Linked DNA regions of Homo sapiens: region 2 is linked to region 1. Evidence: fine-mapped expression QTL. A gene starts in region 1. The other region holds a variant in brackets. All regions are shown on one strand. Distances are from middle to middle.

Evidence for each region. PIP is the estimated chance that this variant, and not a neighbour inherited with it, causes the effect.
Region 2: its variant is fine-mapped to the expression of STIMATE-MUSTN1 in aorta (GTEx, PIP 0.91).

Annotation. Positions count from the first base shown.
Region 1 is chr3:52,893,245-52,903,839 of GRCh38, reverse strand. It overlaps STIMATE-MUSTN1 (STIMATE-MUSTN1 readthrough), which reads left to right and starts at 6,292. Exons shown (of 10, transcript NM_001198974.3): 1 at 6,292-6,549. The coding sequence starts at 6,390. It overlaps STIMATE (STIM activating enhancer), which reads left to right and starts at 6,292. Exons shown (of 8, transcript NM_198563.5): 1 at 6,292-6,549. The coding sequence starts at 6,390. It overlaps SFMBT1 (Scm like with four mbt domains 1), which reads left to right. Exons shown (of 21, transcript NM_016329.4): 21 at 1-268. RefSeq lists a silencer at 6,030-6,739.
Region 2 is chr3:52,831,446-52,842,040 of GRCh38, reverse strand. It overlaps STIMATE-MUSTN1 (STIMATE-MUSTN1 readthrough), which reads left to right. Exons shown (of 10, transcript NM_001198974.3): 8 at 1,431-1,541; 9 at 8,292-8,424; 10 at 8,611-8,920. The coding sequence ends at 8,717. It overlaps MUSTN1 (musculoskeletal, embryonic nuclear protein 1), which reads left to right and starts at 7,022. Exons shown (of 3, transcript NM_205853.4): 1 at 7,022-7,101; 2 at 8,292-8,424; 3 at 8,611-8,920. The coding sequence starts at 7,093. The coding sequence ends at 8,717. It overlaps STIMATE (STIM activating enhancer), which reads left to right. Exons shown (of 8, transcript NM_198563.5): 8 at 1,431-5,308. The coding sequence ends at 1,547. RefSeq lists enhancers at 1,737-2,238, 4,422-4,591. The variant C/G (reference allele first, on the strand shown) is at 6,227.

The DNA.
Region 1 (10,595 bases):
TGAAACTCCAGGTGAATTTTCACTTACTATTCCATTGCTAGCTATTATAGAATAATAGCGTTTGCTGCACTATTCTAGTCATGAGGAGTGAGGAAAAACATACATAGGTTGTCTCCCTTAAATGGTTTGCTTTGCTGAATTTTTTTTATCCTAATCACCTGCAAATTTATAACCCAATCATTCTTCCTCAAGATTTGAAAATGTTTTAATCCTGCAAACTGGGTGAATTCTAAACAGCTCTACAAATATAAGGAAATATTACAGCAAATTTTAACTGATTGTGATTTTTTTTTCCCATTCCCCACCACCCCAACCTATTTTTGTGGACATTGATGAATAATCTGGAGCCTCTCTTCATTGGGTAATTCATAAACCAACTTAACTCAAGCCCTGCAACTAAATCATACATTAAATCATTAACTCTTCACTTAGGTTCCTACCAGATCTATCTGGGAAGAAGCTTCATTTAAGTAAAAATTAGTATGTTTGAAACTTAGAGATCCAGTTTTTAAAAATTTAAATCTGTGTCTGTGGAAGACAAGGATATATAGGGAATGCTAGGGAATAATTAGCATTAAACATTAAGCTTTTGGTGGGTAGTGGTGGTAATCTTGCTTAATGAAATTTCCTGAGAGTTCAGTCAAGGTACTAAGGAAAAGAGGGCCCCTTGAGGAAGAATAATGGAACAGAATTTCTGGAATTAATGTTTAGGGCCTCGTGTTATTATCTTATTTAGGAAAGTGAAATATATTTCCTATAAGAGGGAATTTACCAAACACAAGAACAATGAATGCTTTATTTTGTCTCTCTTTTGACTTCTCCAGAAACCACAGAATTAAGAATCATCTCCCTTCACAGGTGAGGGGATGAAGGCGCTGAAGGGCAAAACATACAGCCCTACGTAGTCTCTGATCTAGGTAGAGTCAGAGCCCAACAGGCTTGTTTATACCATGATTATTCAGGCTCAGCCCGTTCCTAGAGAAAGGCTGACTCTAAATGGTCAAGTAAGTTGAGTTTCCCTTAATATTTCTTGCATTCTCCTATTAAGGCATAGTTTATTAGGCAATTGCATAAAGAATTATATCCCCCAGCGCCGACTCCCGTATATTATGTAAGCAAGGATAATTGGGAATTTAGCACAGGGCACTTTTTTAACTTAAAGTTTGGACTTAATTTACCTCACAAAGCTGCTGGGACTGGGCTAGATAACAATGATGTTCTGGTTACTGTGATGCTGAAACAGATTTCAAGCCAGATAATAGCTCACCATGTTGGGGTAAAATGTTGGTATGTTGCACACAGGTGCAAGAACTTTGTTTTTTAGAGAGACCAACTTCTTAAATGTGTAACAGTCACATTGTGAAGGGACTGCATTTGTCTGGATTTCACCTGCAGCTGGGCCCACAGCCTGCCTGAGGTCAGAAAATTTTTCATGACCCATTTTTTACCCTGAATTGACAAGTTTAGAAAACAGGTTAATGGACTACTTCATCCTCCTGGACCTTGAAAAGCTGGCTGACCAATATTAGACTACTACTGCTCAATTAGTGTGCTAGGGAAACCTTTTTGCTGCACATGCAGATTTTTCTGTGACATTTTGACTAGATTTTGAGGGCTTCTGGGGACTATGCTGTTTTCCTTTGTACACCATCTTCATCCTTCTCATTTGAAGCAGAGTTGAAGTGGCTAATGCAGGGAATGCATTTATGGAAGCTTGCACGCTATCTGCCTTTGTTCAGCAATGCAGGTGGCTCCTAGCATTTATCTATGTTATAGATATGTGAGGTCAGGGAAGGGTACTTACTAACCTCTGGAAAAGATGAGCTTCTTGATAAATATTTATTGACTTATGGTAGAAGCAAACATAGAAAACTAGTTCAGAACTTAGCCTTAATATGCCTTTTCTCCTGGAAGTAAAATATTCTCACTGTGAGAGAGAAGACATTGGACCTTAGCTTCCAGAGGACCTGGATACACTTTACTTGCTCTCTAGTACCAATTCAGTCACGAATGTGGTACCTGAATACAATTTAAAAGCTTTAGGAGGCCTTAGGTAGGGTGGGACTCAGAATCATTTCCCTCTCTCAAGCCAAAAAGTGTTTCTGAGGGACACATAGAATATCAGGCAATCTAGATGGGAACATTTGGGAAAACTATCACAGGCAATTATATTTACTTGGCACCTATATCACCAAAGATTGTTCTATTTGAGACACCATTTACTGGTTTAATTGATCAACAGTGGAACACACCCTGGATTTGAACTCTGATCCTGTATATTGAGGATGTGCCGTGTGTGCACACACCAGTTCAGAAGTGTTCTGTGTTATCAGTAGGAAATCTGTTGGTCTTATGAAGTTAAATGAGTAGAAGGCATCACTACAAAAAATGAAGTACAAATCTTGGTGGGGACCAGATGCCCCCTTTGCAAGCTTGGATTTCCTTGCTCCTGGGTCCACTGTAAGCAACCATATGTTTGTCATGGTGCTGACTCAGAAATCGTAGGACAGAGAGCCTCCTGCAAAACCAAAAAGAAATGTTACTTTCCTGCGATTATAATTCTTCCTTGACTTTGTTCACTTTAGATGTTTTACTAGTGAGTTTTGATGACTCCCACCCCTTATGTGAGAATGTGCATACTTTGGAAACTTGAATTTATCCAAACAAGCTACCTATGACTTAGAGTTTGGGCATAAGTTTTAAATTCAATGCTCAGTCGAACTGGATCTGGTTCCAGGCCCACTCCAAGGGTGGTTTCAGGGGTGTTTTTTCAGTACTTGTCCCAGACCACACAGGTAGCCTTGTTTCTGAGGGCAGCTTTATGGGGAGGTGTAGAAGGTGGTGGGCAGCAAATGCACTGCAGAGTCATTTTCTTGGGTATGGTGTTTAAGAAGCCTGAGATTTTCACAAGAACCAGCAAAACCAGGAGTGGAGAGTTGGGGAGATAGAGAAGTAGGCCTAAAACTCCCTCTTCTTGAGTCTTTTTTGACTTAATACACCATTGGGTCTGTCCTGGTGCTATGGCCTATCACAAAGGACTGTTTTAAGAGAGAAGCAAGCCACAGCCTTGCCAGATAAGTCTCCAACACCAGCAGAAAAGCACGGACCCTGATCTGTGGGAGGCAAGGGTCTCCCATTATTTCTGGAGGCAAATGGTGCCTTCTAGTGAAATGGTGCCACCATTTGCTGATGGGGGTGCCTGTTCTCAGGATGTGTGGAAACTCAGGCCTGAGGGTTTCTACATGGTTTATTCAATCTAACTGCATACCTAGCTTGGCAGAATGGAGGTGGACAAAAGTGCTGAAAGGATGAGGGTAGGCTTTTAGGGCAAATCAAGTCACAAAGCAGATGATTGAGGGAGGTTACAAAGCTTAGGCAGAGTTAAAGTTGGGCAGTCCATTAGCTCCTTTTGCAAGAATCTCTGGAGACGGTAGTTTGAATGTTTCCCTTGAGATTTCAAGTGCTCATTTCTTTTCCCCTCCCTTCCTTTCTTCCTTTTTTTTTTTTTTTTTTTTTTCATTGAATATTCTCTGAAGACAATCAGAGGCCTGCCAGGGAGGGACTCCTGGCTGGTTCCAGCACTGTCCTTAGGCCTCTTTTTAATACTAACTTGTTGGAACTGATGCACTTTGTTTAATGTATTTTACCTTTTTTTTTTAAAGCTGCTCATTTAGAACAAAATCAAATGCTTATTGCATTGTATCCTTCCTGCTTGCTGTTTTTCCTCTTAATTTCAAAAGTTATGCATTAAAGATAAAAGTACACTTAAGAAGTATGCACAAGAATACCTATTAAAATAACTACCATCAAGTTTGATGGTATAACTTCAAAGGATTAAAAAAAACTATTTTGGATTAATATTTTGCGTGTTTTTTTTGTAAATATGATTGTATATAAACTGGTGGTACGTTATGACAGTTTTAAGTGGTTGTGAGAAAACTAAAGAGAACAGGTCTTAAGCTATGTTTAACCTTAACTTTGTGCTGATTTGACAACAAGGAAGGCATTTTGGCCAGAGTAAATTTTTTAAAACTCTTTCCAGCGGGACCTCAGAGAATCATTTCCAAATAGATGAGAAGTTCCTTCCTACTTTAATAAAACTCCGGAATTCTTCCCCCTCTCTTGCTGTCTCATCCTTTACCTTCTGGATTTAGGTGCTTTTTAATTCCAGTTCAGGAAAGATAGGAAGAGTAGAATTTCCCCACAGCAACCTTGCTCCTGACATTGGGGATTCCGCCCCTGATCTCTGAAGACTGCTTCTTGTTTGTTCCTCTGTGAGCCTTAAGGATTCCTCCACAGCTGGATGTGCAGAACAATTCTTTGTCAAAAACATCACTTTTCAGCTCTATGTCCAATTTTCCTTGAGCTGTCTGTGTCTTCAAGCAATCAATAGTCTCCTTATGCCCAACCACAATCTATTCTGCTTTAAGACGTAGCCTCTTGTTTGGTTCTCTCTAAACATGTACTGTTAACTGTTGAGCATCCTCATAAGATCCCTCTTAGACTAAAAGACAGTCATGCAATTTTAATTTTCCCTTATCCATTTATTTTTTTAATCTGATTTTCTGTATTTGCCCACGGCCAGTACTTGTGGAGAGTTTAAAATTTTATAAATTAAAATTCCATTTAAATTAAGCATTTTGTCGCATGTTCTCTGTACCAGGCACCATACTGAATTTGAATTGAAGGGTAAATAAAAATAATTCCTGCCCTCAGGAGGCTCACACTTAGCTGTGGGAGAGAGACATGTGTACAGCTGTCAAATTTAGCAGTCTGAAAAGTTTTGGTGGAACAGTACACACTAGGTAATGTGGGAGCAAGAGGGAGAGGGAGGTCAGAAAGGCTTTGACACATGAGGAGCAGTTCATGGAGCAGGGAAAAGGGAATGGCATCCATGCAGCTAGAATGCTACATAAAGGCACAGAGGTGTGAAAATGTAAGAGAAGGCTGGAGAATTGCATTTTTATTCTCTAATCAGGTTAATATTCCTGTTCACCAAGAAAGCTTTTAGCTAGCATATAACCCTCTTAGGTAATTGGAATTTGGGGGGCTATTTAATAGGAAACTTTTTCCTAGAGATGATATTTACCGTTGAAAACACGTAGCTCAGTATCAACTGGACTTACACCATATGTTCACTGACATTCTGCAGCAGGAAGGTCAGCGGCTCTAGAGCACCAACAAGAAGGTATCCAGAGAGAGCCCAGATTGGGCTGGGAGAATGGGTGAGTGTCAACTGGACTTACACCATGTGTTCACTGACATTCTGCAGCAGGAAGGTCAGCGGCTCTAGAGCACCAACAAGAAGGTATCCAGAGAGAGCCCAGATTGGGCTGGGAGAATGGGTGAGTGTCAACTGGACTTACACCATGTGTTCACTGACATTCTGCAGCAGGAAGGTCAGCGGCTCTAGAGCACCAACAAGAAGGTATCCAGAGAGAGCCCAGATTGGGCTGGGAGAATGGGTGAGAGAATGGGGACTCAGGGTCTTGTTAAAGGCAGAGCACAGGTTCTGAGAAGTTGGAAAGGGTTAGATGGGAGTGTGTGTGTGCAGGGGGATGTTGGAGCCTGGAAAATACCAACCATTTGTCTTTTACACTCTAAAGGTAGTTGTGCTCCCCAAGTGAATAAGGTGGGACATGTGCACGTCAGGTTTTCAGTGTGAAACCTGGTATATTTCCAAATGAAAGTGATTGGATTCAGGTGACCATTTAAATTATGTCTATGAAAAAAGAAAATAGACTTGGGGCCTTGATAAGCCTTTAGCTAGGGAAGTAGGAAAAAGACTCAAATGTCTGGGTTGGAGGGAAGACTCCTGTACTCAGTCTCAGATTGTTTTCCTTATTCACTTGCTTCAGAATAATCCAGGCTGCAAACTATTGGGACCCACCCCAGAACTACTGAATCACGATCTCTGAGGGTGGAATTCAGGAATGATGATAATTTCTCCAGGATATAGGGATTTTCCTTAGAGGGAAAAATAATTTGACCACAGGCCGTCCCAGCTCCTACCTCCGGACCTGGAGCTCGTGATTCCCAGGCTCTCATTCCGGTCTGCGGTGGCCGGCTCACCTGGCCTGTCTACCTGCGGGCGTGGCGGGGTTGGAGAGGGGAGCGGGACCCGCGACCCCGCCCCGTGGCCCGGCCGGAGCCCCGCCCCTCGGGGGCGGGTGGGGAGAGCTGCCGCGGCCGAGGCCCGCCCCAACCTTGGCTGCGCCAATCAGGCACTGCGATCTCAGACGTCGGGTTACGCGCGGCGCGGAGTCGGCGGCCGGGCGGAGGTACCGGCTCAGGCTTGGGATCCCGGCTGCGGGTTTGGCGGCGCTGCGCCGGCAGGCAGCGAGGCCGGGCGGGCCCTGGGCCCTCGCGCCCCTCCCGCGAGGCCTGTCATGCAGGGCCCCGCCGGGAACGCGAGCCGGGGACTGCCAGGCGGGCCGCCCTCCACAGTCGCGTCCGGGGCGGGCCGCTGCGAGAGCGGCGCGCTCATGCACAGCTTCGGCATCTTCCTGCAGGGGCTGCTCGGCGTCGTGGCCTTCAGCACGTTAATGCGTGAGTCTGGGACCCCCCGACCCTCCGGAGGCCCTGCGCGGCAGCCGCGGCCCGGCCCCCCTGGGGGCCCCTCCTGCGCGGAGAGTTCAGGCCTTGGGACCCGAATTGCTCCTCCCCCGCAAACCCAGGCTGGGTATTCCTGCACTAGGGGTAGCCCGAGCCCCTCACCTACTCGCTGTGGCCTCCAGACAGGAGTGACCCTTCCCCTTTCCACCTTAAACGTCTGTCTTTTGAGACGCCAGTCTAAAACTCGCCTACCTCCCACCTTACCATCTCGAATTGTTACCCCACTTCCCAGCCTGGAATCATGACCCCCAAGGGTGACATCCCCTTGTCCGCCCCTTCTCAGGGGCTCTTCGTGCTTAGAACCCACATCCCTCAATCCCCAGTGCGATGCTGAGCTCTTTTCTGCCCCTTCACTCTTCAAGGATCTGCCTTCTCCGTTCACATTTAAATCCTGCTACTTTGCATCCCTCTCAACACCTGGAGTGTTAGGGCCATGCCTTCCGTTTCCCAGTACCCGCCTCCCTCTCCGTGGCCCTTCTTCCTCAGCTTTAGTTTCCCTTTTGTCAGGGTAGGACCCACCCAGTCTGCCTTCTTCCCCAGATCCCCTTCCTCTCGTTTCTTCCGGAACAGGCCCACCTGTTCCATCTCTGTCCCAAGCTTTCCTAATAAGCCGCATCTATAGCTTCCCCTGGCTGTTCCCTTTCCACTTTTATTCTTTATATTTTAAGTTTCCTTTTCCATTAAACTTGGGCACCTTAGTGGCTGAATAGAGAAGGAAGCCCCCACCCTGTTCTCATGTGTGCTGATGGGGGGTGGGGGGGGGCTTCTGTTTTTCATCGTGTGCATCCTTCCCTTATTAAAGTAACAAGAAGTTTTGCTCGACATGTAAGCCTAGGAGTGCCCTTGTGACTGCGTTTTAGGGGGAAGGAAAGGTTATAACTATCTGTGCAGAGTCATTAATTCCAAAAATGACTTGTTCTCAAAACTTCCCCACTGTGCTTGTGTGGACAGAGTGGAGAGTTCCTGCAGAAAGTATGCTTTGGGGTACTCAGGAGGGATCTTGCAGCTGTGTGCCTTTGTCTTGTGGGGTCCAGTTGCTGGAGTGGCCACCTTGCTTGTTTATAACTTGGGGTTTCTTTGAGTGAATTCTCTCAGGCTTTAAGTAACCCTGAAGAGGCTCTGATCATGGATACCGCGTTCTTCTGGTGGCCTGTCCTTGATAAGTCTTATAAGTGCCCAACTGTCTATGTTTGCCACTTTTTCTTTCCTTTTTAGTCCCAACTTGCCTTGCTTTTTCTCTGCTAAACAAATACCCACTTGTTCCCACAGTAATAATTTGTGACAACTTAGCCAAAATCCGCTGCTGACTTGGGCGCATGTACTGTACGTGTGTGTTTTCAAGACATGGTGAGTGGATCTTCATACCCCTCCTACTTCTCTGTCCTCCAGACAGCCTTCCTTTCTCTCTGAAGGAAGTGTAGGTTAAATTTTTCTTTTGCTCCCTAACCTGAGGTTTCTTAGCCTAGCTCTGGCTGTTTCCATAGGTTTGATTGATGCTGATGGCCCGGCTTGTCCCCTAGGGTTTGACACTTGTGATTCAGAGAAGGAAATGTGATGATGACAGGGCAGAGTTGCTCACAGCTGAGAAGTGTATCGGGTTGAATGTGTTCTGAGTGGAGTCTTCAGGGACATATTCACTTCTTTACTTAATCTTCAGCGTGAGCACATGTGCAAATCCCACTGTGGTTGGTACTTTCTGTGTGCAGAGATTGAACTAGAAAGCAGTCTCTTGTTCACTGTGAGGCTTGACGTGGACGGAGCTTGTGGAAATGGCTGGTGGGTCCTGGGGTGATGTGGGTAGGAGTGATGGGGAGAAGAGCTGGAAAGGCTAGAGCTATGTCTGCCCTGACACAGAAATGGAGGTGAGAGCAAGAGCCTCCTCCCCCTACCTAGAAGCAGACAGAGCAGGCCAGGGCAATGGTACTCTGGGAGCTGGACAAGAAGAAGCCCACTGACTGGGATGCAGTCAGGGTGGGGCCCTTCTTATCTCTCAGATTTCTTGGTCCTGTTGAAATAGAACTGCGAGGCTTTTCCTTCTTGAACTACTGGGAAGAGGAAGAAATCTCTAAGGTGGAAGAGGAACGAGATCAAGGTAGCCTTAAGGAAGTACATCTGCGAGCCATTTGGCTTTGTCCTGGGCTATTAGTCCTCCGTCCTTCTCAGTCTGGCGGAGCTGCCAGGAGGGGCATCTGTTGAAGGCCAGGCTCCCCTGACGAGGGTCCCCCTCGCAGCCCTGAGGGAGGGAAGTCTTAGTGTGTGTTAAGGTGAGGCCACTCCATCCTTCCTCAGTTCTGTTATCTTCAAACATTTTAAATACCAACCAGTCTGTTCTGAGCAGTTTAAACAGCCGTTGTCCTTTGAGGGGCTGTTTTTGAGATCACAGTCTTTTCCCTTCTGAGTACCCGTGGCCCTCGAGGCAATGGGCTCACTGCCTGTCTTCTGGAACGCTTCCCCAGTCCTGATGGCCAACACTATTGTTTCCTGTTGGACCAGCTCTGACTGTAGAATGAACCCATTTCTCTGCAGACAAGCTGTGAGGTAGTTTTCCTTACTTCACCTCCCTGATTTCAGTGACCCCTCAGACCACTGTCTTTATGTTCCTTTTTCTATCCAGAAAAATCACTTTTTTCTCCACTTACACGTTGCCTTGTTTTTGTTTGTTTGTTTCTTTGTTTTTAATCTGGAGAGGTTTGTCCTGAAGGAAGATTACTTATATATATTAATGTCTCTGGGGAGGATTCTGGTTCTGCAAGAATTTCTCATTCTGGTGCTTTGATAGACTTCTTGCCTTACTATGTAGGGTTTATAGACCCTCTTGGTCCAGGCAGTTGAGAATGTATATGCCAGGTCATACATGGTAGCCCATTATTCAAGCTGCATAAACATGCAGACTGTTACAGGCACCACCCACACACATGTCCCAGTGTCAGCACTGCCTTGTTGAGTTGGCGGGCTTCCTAGAGGCTCCAGCTAAGGTACCCTGTGTACGCAAGGAAAGATGAACATACTCAGAGACAAGCTTATGAAGATACTTTCCACTTAGAGTTTTCTGAAGTGTCTGCTAGGTATCTGCATAGAAAGAAACGCTTTAAACGAGGGGGCTTTGCCAAGCAATTCCTCGTTTTGGTGGTTTTAAGCAATTCCTCGTTTTGGTGGTTTTGTCTATAGTCTGTGACTTGACAAAGTTGCTCAGCTAGGGTCTCAGCAGAACAGAGCTAAGCAGTCCTAGAGCTCAGCAAACTGTTCCAGTGCAGGGTAGCCAACCAGCTGTCAGCCAAAGGTCGTGTTGGCCAGTGTGTGTGTTGGCATTTGGGGGTGTTTGCTCTCAGGACATGTGAATGCAAAGCAAACTCAAGCCTCCCTCACCGTGCACAGTCAGGGTTCTGGGCTGAAGTGTAGACAGAATTGGTTTTTAATAAAACAAGCATTTTGAGAGCTTGGATAAATCTGCCTGCCTATTTTTGTTATAGACATGGGGCCTAGCCAGCTGGGAGAAATGTGTCCATGTTTTACAAAAACACTGCTAACATTGAGAAGTGATAACTTTTTTCCTGCAATCCAAAGTAAAAATCACAAACCAGTCCACTCAGCTTTGATATCTTAAATGAGAGTTTCTGGGGTTTTCTCCGTGGTAAACCGGCCTCCCTGTGTGCTCTGTGTGAACAGGCTTGTGTTGGCACAACCTTCCCTACGATCACCTCTCCCCACCCCATCCTGGTTTTTATCTCTAAAAATGTCAAACGTAGAAAACATGAAAAATAATACACTGAACATCTGTCTGCCCTCTACCTAGATTTAGCAGTTGTTCACATTTTGTCACATTTGCTTTACCTCTTTATGCTTTTTTTTTTTTGGCTGAGCCATTTGAAGGTAAATTGTGACCAGCATCACACTTTACTGCTAAATACTTCAGCTAAGTCTCCCCAAAATAAGGACAATCTCCCACATAACCACAATTTCATCATCATACTTAAGAGAAT
Region 2 (10,595 bases), 62 kb after region 1:
AACCCAACGAGGGCCCTGGGACAGCCTGGAGGGAGTTTCAGAAGACGAATAGATAGTAGGACAGAGGGGAAGCCGTGTCTTCTCTAGGTGCTTGTCTCTAGAATCTGGCCAGCACCTGTCATATGAGAGCTTGGTGAACATTAGGTGAGTGGCAAACAGTGTTATGGGCAGAAGCAGCAGCTCATGAGCATTCACAGTCACATGGTTTGGTGTCTGGGCCATAGTGTGAAATGCACTGTGGCTTGTATTCTGGAGCATAGGACAGAAGGACAAGAAGTGAGGCACAGGCTGAGCTAGATCGGCAATGCCCTGTGATCCAGGCTGAGGCATTGGGATGTGCTCGTACAGGCGGTGAGGAGCAGTGGGAGTGTGGTGGTCGGGACCGAGACTAGAGGCAGGAAGCCCCGCAAGGGAACAGTGCAGGGAAGAGGAGGTGAGACTGCCTGCCCTGCCCTAGAATAGGAGTTCGTGTTTCCCTGCATAGGTGGGCTTTGGACCTCCTGATCCCAACCTAGGTGGTTCCAACCTTTCCCTGGTATTCAGAGGTCTAAGGAGCCAGGCAGGCGGGCAGCGGATGAGTGTGTTTGCCCCAGCTGCATGGCTGAGTCATTCCAGGGCCTTAGAACAGCAAAGTGCCGCTGTTTGTCTTCAGCAGTTACAGAGTTGGCTCAGAGCAGCCACGCTGAACTCCCCCTGCCCACAGATGCTTTCTCTTCCTTTTGAAAGGGGCTTTTCAGTCTGCCTCTGCAGTATTTAAGGCAGCTTCAACAACTGCATGTGTCATGGTTGAGCTTTTTTTAGCCAGGGTGACCTTAGGCTGCAGATCCCTGCTGAGTTTGTCCTGATGGAGGTCGGTTCCCCTGGAGGTGGACTGAGAAGTGGGGAGCATTAGCAGAGGAAGGGGGTCTGTCGACTCAGTGCTGGCTTCAGTAGCCCATGAGTGTCCTTGGAGTGAACATGGCCTGTGGAGGCTAGCACGTCTCATTGAGTACAGGGAGCTTCCCCTCACTCTCTTGTAAAGAAACATTAAGACTTGGCAAGGCATGGTGGCTCACGCCTGTAATCCCAGCACTTTGGGAGTCCGAAGCAGGTGGATTACTTGAGGTCAGCAGTTTGAGACAAGCCTGGCCAACATGGTGAAACCTCATGTCTACTAAAAGTAGCAAAAAAAAACAACGAACCAGGCATGGTGCCACGCACCTGTAATCAGCTACTCAGGAGACTGAGGCAGGAGAATCACTCGAACCCAGGAGGCAGAGGTTGCAGTGAGGCGAGATCGTGCCATTGCACTCTAGCCTGGGTGACAGGGTGAGACTCTGTCCAAAAAAAAAAAAAAAAAACATGAGACTTGAAGGGCCCAGGGTCCAGGGAGGGCAAATGAAGAAGGCCCTGCTGGGGGTGACTCAGGCCCTGCCTCTCTACTGCCTCAGATCCTGATCTCAGCGGATGATGAGATGGAGGAGTCCGACGTGGAGGAGGACCTCCGCAGACTGACCCCCCTCAAGCCTGTGAAGAAAAAGAAGCACCGCTTTGGGCTACCCGTATGACACATTCCCATGCTGGGGGTGACGGGAGGGCCCCGCCAGCCGCTGGTGTGCAGAGGTCATCCCGCAGCATCGTTCCTTACCCTCTCTCTGCCCTTCCTTTCTACCTCTGCTCCTCTTGCTGTCTCTGCCCGCTCTCGCCTGCCCCCAGACTACTGTGACTTAAAAAGAGGGAAGAGGAGCCAGCGCCCGAGGGGGCCACTGGCGGCTGGAGGTCCCCATTCAGTTGCACTACAAACACTGACCAAATATGCAAGGAAGGAGCTGTGTTTGTTTGTTGTCGTCCCAGACAGTGTTGTGAGGGACCTGAGGCCCTGCCCCGTGTCCGACCACCGAGTGGCAAGGTGGAAGGAAGCACAGGCACACAGACCGTGGGTGGGTCTCCTCACCGTGGCTGTGGGCAGTGCGAACACATAACACCCTCGGGCTAAAAGTGACTCGTTGACCAAGTTGGAACCGGAATGCTTTCTTACTCAAAATGGCTTTTGTAACTATTGATTTCTGAAGCTGGTTTTATGAGTTGTGACAGTGTTACCAGGTTGGGGGTATGTGTTTATTTCCTACAAAGTACTTACGGGACTAATGGGCAAAACAGAGATTTTTAAGTCTTCCGTATGCTGTTTGACTTTTATATTTTTAAGTTATATTTTCATACTATTGTATTTAAAAACTCTTTTTAGTCCCCAAAGAAATGGGTTTATTTGCCTTTCATGGGGTGTGGGCTGGCAGGAGGAAAAATCGGGAGTTTTTTATTTGGAATATTATTAGATGATGCCCTATGATAAGATGAGACAAATGATGGGGAGGGAAGGAGGATGGCCCTTCTCTAGAATCAGCAAACCCAATGGTTCTGTGAAGGTCAGACCCAAGCTTGGAGCAGCTGGTCTGGATGCAGATCCAGGAGCTGCAGAGTGTGGAACAGGAAAGGCTCTGCCCAGGGCCCATGAGCTCTAGCATTCCTGCTGGCAGATTAGAGATCTTAGTTAAATTTGACCAAGAAAGGAGCTTAGCTAAGAGGTCTTTGTTTCCAGAGGACCCAAGACTACCAGACTCCTGTGCAGTCTGCCTGTCTGCAGAGCCTCCAATCACGGTTTAAAGTGGTCTTGGCCTCCCAGCCCCCACTGCTGCAGCCTTCAGAGCCAGCCTCTGGACTCAGCGCCAGGAGCCTCCTCTCCTGCTGCCCTGGTACCTGTCATCCTAGTGTCACCTATTTGTTTTGCACAGCATTCTGGAGAACATGTGCCTCACAAAGTGATCCTGTTTTTCTCACCCTCCAAAGCTGAGGTGGCTAAGGGAGGCAGGGGTGAGAGAGCTCACTCTCTAAACCACAGGCAGGGCAAGGTGCTTCTAGGCCGTGTCCCCTCCCTGGGGAATGGTCACTACTCCTCAGCATGGCCACAGGCCCCTGTGGTTTTGGGAGTTTGCTGAGTGACTGTGGAATGGGCTGACCCCAGCCGTTTCCCTGCTGTGGAAACAGCAAGGTAGGGGCACTGCTTGGTGGTTTGTCAAGCTCAGAGGCAGCCACGGATGGTTAGGAACAGGAAGCCACACTGCTAAGGTGTGATGAGCTAGAAGGGAGACATCCTGGACTTCAAGTGAGACAAGTGCAGAGGAGGCCACTCCACTTAGGACCTTCCTTTTAGACCTGCATGAGCACGTGTTTCACTTAAGCACATTGGGTCCGAATTGGGCGCATGAACCCAGCTGTTAAACCAGGTACCCTGGGACTGCCCTCTGCCTCTCAGAGCCCTACCTGTCCTGGACTTGAAGGCGAGCATCAGGCAGGCCTTCTCAGCCCATCTTCCACCAGGAGTGCAGAGCCAGGGTGCTGAGAGGAGCAGGGACTGTAACTACAGTAGGAGGCAACTTTGCTGGTGTCATTCCTGCTCGGATTGACTTTGTGCTCCCTCCCATCCACAGCTATGGTAGCCAGTATTTCCCCAGCAGCTCTCTAGTGGGGAAGAGTGGCTAGAACCAGGCCATTCTCAGTCGAATTTAGGAAGACCAAGACTCATGTTCCTGACAGGACGGTCATTCCCTCATGGCATCACTGACTCAGTTCTAATTCCTCCCCTCCTGTTTCATTTTGGTTTGAACAACCTGTGCCTGCAGCTGTTTCTTCCACCTTCCTGGAGCTCACAATTGGAGCTTCATGTTCAGTCTTGAGCTCCTAATGTTTCCAGACAGGGCAGGGGATAGGAGAGCCATAATCTATGAAAGCTGTGAAACAAACCCTGGGTTATATAGATCTCAGATGGTCTCATCTGAAGGCTTTGCCCACTTCCCAGTGAGCAGAGGGTTTGGGGAACAAAGAGGTAGCTGAAGAGTGGTGGTTTTTCCCTGTATCCTGATTTTCAGAAAGGGCTTTAGTCTCTGAGCTGTGGCTAGTAGCTGGCTGGCTGACCAGGGGACGGGGGTCTAATAGGGTGTCTGACCATAGGACACCTCTCGTGTTTGGCCTTCCCTTTCTTGTGTGTTTGTGTGTGTGTGTGCACGTGCACGTGCACACACATGTACACACACAAATCTGTATCCCCAGGAGTGCCTCCTGCAGTCACTGGGGGCTCTTCCGTGGTGCACCATCCCATGAGAGCAGATCAGAGGGCTGTGGTCAGGACTTCCTCCCGAGCTGCCCTCCCTCCCTGGGATGAGTTTCCTCTCCACCTGCTCCAAGGTGCCTTACGAGGTGCAGCTCTTCACCTGGCCACATGGCATCCATCACCGTGTTGAGAAATGGTGGGACGTTGGCTGGATATTGTGTGCTATGAATCTGATTTGTCCAAATCTGGACCTCAGCCAAGCCACCTGTGGTGGAACCTTGCAAGTCAAGGTCATGAACAAATTTCTTGTAACTATTGGAAATAAACTAATGAGGTAGAACTGTCATATCCAAATGGAAGAGGTGGTTGGTACTGTTACTTCCTTTTGCTGTCAGAGGGTTGTTGACAATGGCAAGGGGGGATGTTAGTGAGATCCAGGTGGTGGTGGCTTCTTGGTCCACTCAGCTTGCACACATGCAAGAGGAGGGTCTGTGGCCCCTCAGCCGTGCTGGTGGCCTCCTTCCTCAAGCTTTAACTTGTGCCCTCCCTGGCAACAGGGAGTCATGGGTTAATGTCACCTGTCATGCCTCTTTCTTCAGGGAAAATATTAAAAGGCTCAAATCCAAGCTGTGACTTCCCTTAGACAGTGTAAGCCTGTAGGGTGCAGCCCCAAGTTTATGTCCAAAGGCTGCCTCAGAACCCTGGAGGGAGCAGCGCCCAGCTGGCAGCTCACTCTGCCCTTGCAGTTCACTGGCCTTTTCGCAGCCAGGCTAAGATAGGCAGTGCAAGGAGCTTCCCACTGGCCAGAGCAGCTGCCTTGTAGAATGTGGGGCTGGCTTTTAGAAGTTTCACACGCTTGCAGCTAAGAGTGCAGAGCTCTCTGTTTTACTTCGTGAAACATTAGCAGCTCTGAGGGGCTTGGCTTTTGGTAAGGGACTTATGGTCTGACTTGCCACAAGCACCTTGAGCTCCTGGGTTGGTTGGTGGTTGGTTGGTTGGGTTGTTTTAAATTTGATTTTTCTTTTCCTGAAGTTTGTTAGAAGTCAGACCTATGCAAGGAAAACCATGGCCCACTTCAGCAGCCATCCAGTGGGGGTGCTTAATCGGTGGTGGTAGGATTCATGGAAACGTTTTTTTGAAATGAAAGAGAAGATGATGTACTTACATTGTAAAATGGTTTACAATAAAGTTTGGCATCTTATTACAGTTTTTTTTAAAAAGAAACCATCACATTTGTGGTTGTGGTTGTGGGTTCTCTGGAGTTGAAACAGCTTGGCAGGGTCAAAAAAGATTCCCCTGTGAATTAGAAGGTTCTCCCCAGGGACCAGAGTGAGAAGGAACCTTACGAAGCCTCATGGCAGGAGTGGGAGCCAGCAACTGCCCAGTGAAAAGCCAAACATGCTCTTGCCATGTCCATCTCCACTTCTTCGCTAGTGAGAATTAAAGCAAGTCCGTCTCTGAGGAGGACATCGTGTTGGGGAGGTAGAGTATAAGCAGTGAGTAGCCCACATCCTTGTCCCTGAGGCTGCGGGGCTGGAAGGAGGTCCCTGGGCAGAGCCGCAGCATCAGGTGCCATCTGCAGGGGCACCCCTGGAACTAGTGGAAGGCCCCCACAAGGCCTGGCCTGCCCTCAGCTGCCTCTTGGCCCATGTGCCACATCCTGGGCATTCCTCATGTCAGCACTTGTCTCAGATCAAGCCTGGCAGTCCTCTCATTGGCCTCCTGGAGCCAGGGTGTCAGGAGGGGGATTGGGGTGGGGTTCAAAGTATGACAGCAATGGAGTGGCATTTGGGATAACCAAATGTCAGTGCCTGGTTGAGTTCCATCTGCCTGGAGCCTTCGAGGATAAAAATAATCTCCATCATAAACTGAAAAGGACTTAGATATGTGTGTTACTGGGAGGGCTGCGACCTATGCACACCTATTCCCCATACCCACCCCAGGCGTAGGCTCCTGGCCTGTGCCCTGGGGGATCTTCCCCTTGCAAGGAGGGGTGTGTTAGGAGCTTCTAGCAAAGGAGAGCTAAGTGACCTTCCGGGGAGCCCTTGGGCCTGTTCTTGTCTCTGCAGCTCAGTATCTGGAGTGGGCTTCACTCTCCCCCACCCTCTTTGAGCAACTGAAACTGTCCTGCAGGCCAGCCCC[C/G]CTGCGGTGGCCTCACCTACTCGGAGGTGAGTAGGCTCAGGCCTGAGCCTGAGCCTGTTTCACACCTCTGTCTCATCAGTGCTGTCACCATCGAGCATGGTTTCCTCCCTGGTCCTTTCCAGACCCCTTACTCCCCCCTCTCTGAACTTGCAGTTGGAATAGGATAGAGGACAAGGACATCAGCAAAAACATGAGCAACTCCCCAGGCTCCCTTTACCTCACTTTCTCCACCTGTGAACCTGTGGTAGCCCCTCTCTGAGTTTGCTGCAAGGGCCCAGTGAGCTTGCCATAATCAGACGCAGCAGACACGGGAAGCTCCTGCTCTGCCACCATGCAGGGATGGAAAATCTGTCCACTGGAATCCAGGGGAAGGGATGGAAGAGGAAGAAAAACAAGCTTGGAGCAGTCCAACCCAGCTAGGGCCCTCCATTCCCTCAGGGACACCCCACACCCACCCCACACACTGGGATGAACCCTTGCAGAGGAACAATTCAGATGGTCACACATTCCAGGACCCAAATCCGTAAACACAAAGCATGTCCGTCAGTGCCAGCACCTCCCCCCGGCGAATCAAGCAGCTGTCCCAGAGGGCAAAGGGTCTCTGCAGCCATCTGCTTTCATCAGGGCTGCAGCCCCCAGGCAGCAGTACTGGGAGCCCCTCTCATCTCCGAGAATAAACTCTGAAGCCAGCGACCCTGCGGACCTGAATCATCAGGGAGCCTGTCAGAGGAGGGGCAGTGACTCTGCGGGACAAGCAAGCAGGCTATATAAGTTTCAGAAGGCTGGGCTCCACTCAGATCTTTTCCAGCAGCTGCTGCCTGCCAGAGAGGCGCCTTCAGAGACCCAGCGCTTACACAATACCCACCATGTCCCAGGTAGGAGGACCCAGCAAGGGCTGTGTTGATGCCAGAGGGAGTGGAGGTGGAGTCCTGGACACTTTCGGCTCTGGCAGCTGTGTCTTGATCTGAGCCCCAAGCATGAACTGGAGGCTCTGCAGCCCTTGGGAGATGGGGGCTCAGGGAGGACCCCCTGAAGAACCCCTCTTCTATGTGGCTTTGGTGGTATTCCACGGTTTGTTAGGAGGAGTGGAGAGAAATGTTGGGGGTGGGGGGGGCCTAGATAGATCTTTGCATGTGCCTGTGTGTGTGTGTGTGTGTGTGCGCATCTGTGTGTGTGCTGCCGATATAGCTCAGTGTGTAGAGCTTTGTGCATTTGTAGCTATGGGCCCGGCAGCCATGCACTCTGTGTGTGGCCACACACATAGGTCTGTCTGTCTCTGTGTATGGTATATGCATGAAGCTGTATGTGTGTGCACATGAGGCTGGAGGGACACAGCTGGATGCATCGCTGTACAGGGGTATAGTGTGTTGCTCTGAGGAGCCTGGCCCAGGCTGAGCGAGGAAATACCTGCACCTGCACCCAAGCACAGGCAGGTCTCAGACTCACAGGCGCCTGGGGTTGAGGGGTAGGGTAAACACCGAGCCTGGGTGTCCCCCACCCTGGAGGGACAGACCAGCCTGCCAAGAGAGAGGACTGTCCTTGCTGCCTGCTCTGTGGGTGGGTGGCCATTTTGGACTGTAATTCTGTGGGCATCTGGCCCTTCTACCCCATTTCCAGCCCCAAAGACACAAAGTAAATAGTGGCGCTTTTCTGGAAGGGGGCAATCCTTGAGGAACCGCTTGCCACCCAGTGAACAGGTTTTGGAACTAACCAAATTCCCTAGTATTGCCCAACCTCAGAGCTAGTCCCCTTCGCTGTTCCCCACTGTGCCCAGTCCTGAGCTTGACCAGGTAGCCAGACACGCCAGTGTGAGGCTGCAGCAGCCACTGCTCCCAAGAGCTCCCAGGCTATAGGGGAAAGGCACATGGGCAAGTCAGACCAAGACAGCTGGGAGACCTGCAGCAGGTGGAGTATAGTTGGGAAGGCTTTCTCTGGAAGAGGAGTAGAGCCTTGAATAGGCTTGGGTTTAATGAGCAGAGAAGAGGGGTCTTGGCCAAGGCACAGAGGTAGGTGTGCCTTTCTACCGAGGCTTCAGGTAGTAAGATGAGGCTCTTGGATCTCCAAGGCTGGTGCTCAGGAAGCCCCTATCAAGAAGAAGCGCCCCCCTGTGAAGGACGAGGACCTGAAGGGGGCCCGAGGAAACCTGACCAAGAACCAGGAAATCAAGTCCAAGACCTACCAGGTCATGCGAGAGTGTGGTGAGTGTCCTCATGCCATCTGGGGCTGGGGATGGGGGTGCAGGTGTGTGTCAGTGGTGGGGGGAGGTGGTCAAGGATCCTTTTCTGAGAATCCAGTATTCCTGGGTTCAAGAAAGGTGCTCCCATCGTAAGGGATCTTCCCTCCCAGGAAGCTAGGCTGGCCCCTGACTTTACCTCCTCCCACAGAGCAAGCTGGCTCGGCCGCCCCGTCGGTGTTCAGCCGCACCCGCACAGGTACCGAGACTGTCTTTGAGAAGCCCAAAGCCGGACCCACCAAGAGTGTCTTCGGCTGAGAAGTGTGCGCCACTCCCCTTGCTGCCCGAATGCTCGGAAACAGGAGCCTTTCCCAGGAACTCTTTTTTATGCCAGAACGCTTCCTCTCCCCTGCTGTCTCTGGGGCTGCCACCCTCCCCCACAGTCCAGGCCCTTCAGCCAAGGGCTCTGCACCAGCACCTTGGAAGCACCAATAAAGAGGATGCCCACGTGGCCCCAGCAATCAGAAGGTGTTGGTTGGTCCCTGGCTATGGCCACTATTGAGAGGGAGGACAGGGTGGGAACATGGAACATGTCCGTTTAAGAGGATCCCAGGGGATAGCACAGGTGCTATTATGGGCACTGCCACATGCTGCCTTGGACATGGAGACTCAGTGCTGACCTGTGACTTCAGACTTTTCTGAGCCTCAGTTTCCCCTTTTATACTACAGGGGAGTTGAGCTGGAGTCTATTCCATAAAGCAGGCCATGATGACACTGCTCAGAGTGAAGTGGGTGGGGTCTCAGGGACCACCTCTCCTCCTGCCTTCCACAGAAGCTGCTGAGAAGCCTCTGAGGACCTGCAGGCTCTGCAGCACCTAGGGACCTCAAAAACCCCTCTCCCTGCACTGCACTAGGGACCTCAAAACCCCTCTCCCTGCACTGCACTAGGGACCTCAAAACCCCTCTCCCTGCACTGCACTAGGGACCTCAAAACCCCTCTCCCTCCCTACACTTTTGTTCACACTGCCTCCTCCCGGCTTTTGTCCCCTCCAAGTCAGAGCCAGATTGAGATTCCTCTCTGGCAGTCAGTTTCCTGAGCTACCGTCTCTTCCAAACAGCAGGGGTAAGACTCCCACATTCTGCTCCAACCATGCTGTCTGGGGCATGGAACACCAGATTCTCAGCCTGCATGACCCTTCTCTCTCCAGTCCTCTGTCCCCTGTGTGCCTGGAAGTGCCAGGTTCAAAAGACCCATAGAGGCCTGTCCCGTTGTGATGGCAAGACCATGACCATGGACAGGCTGACAGTGGCTCTTTTCGGAGCTGGACTGGCAGAGCCTGGGCTTGTGGTGCCTGGCTCGGGGCTGATGCCTGCTGGGGATGCCTTCCTGTCCCAGGAGGTTCTGGCTGCCCAGAACGTTTCCCACAGTCCCGGCCAGCCTGGCCACCTTATATAGCCCTGAGTCCGGGCTGGGCCTGTGCTCTCTGCCCCAAGGGAGCAGCCCTGCTGTGAGGAAGGGCCCAGTCCTACTTGCTGGACTCCATGGGGAGACTCTTCCCCCAGACACTGAAAGGAGCGTGTTCCCCTGTGTAATCCCAATCGTATCCAGAGCCAAAAGGGTGAGCAGTGGAGACGTGCGCAGAGATGAGGCTTCTGGCCAGTCATGCTAAGGAAGGGGAACGTCTTCCTTGCAGCTGTAGAAATAGCTCCAGTCTATGGCACCTTTGCCCCAGGCCTGCCGCCACCTCTAATGGAGACAGGACTGGTGGAGAAACCCTCCCCAGCCTCTGGAAGCCACTGGCTGCCCCAAGGCCCCCGATAGGTTCCCAAGGCAGCTGGCCCCCTCAGGGCTGGTGTCACGGAGCCGCCGTCCTTCCCTGATCCAGGACTTGGCATCTGGCCACACTTTTATGACTCATCTTTACCCATCTGTGGCCACAGACTCAGGAGCTGGCTTCCCCAGAGCCACCAGGGAACACGAGCCCCAGCGGTGCCCAGAGCGCATAATATGTACTCACTCGATCCCACTTTACAAGGAGCAGAGCGCTTCAACTTTAGCAAGGCCGGGACCCACCCCAGGCCTTTGGGCAGCGCTCCCCTGGGTCTGGGCTGTGGCAGCATCACACTGCTCATGACAACAGCATTCTGCCCTCTCTCAACCAGCGATTCCTGGGCTCCCTCTGCTCCACCAAATGA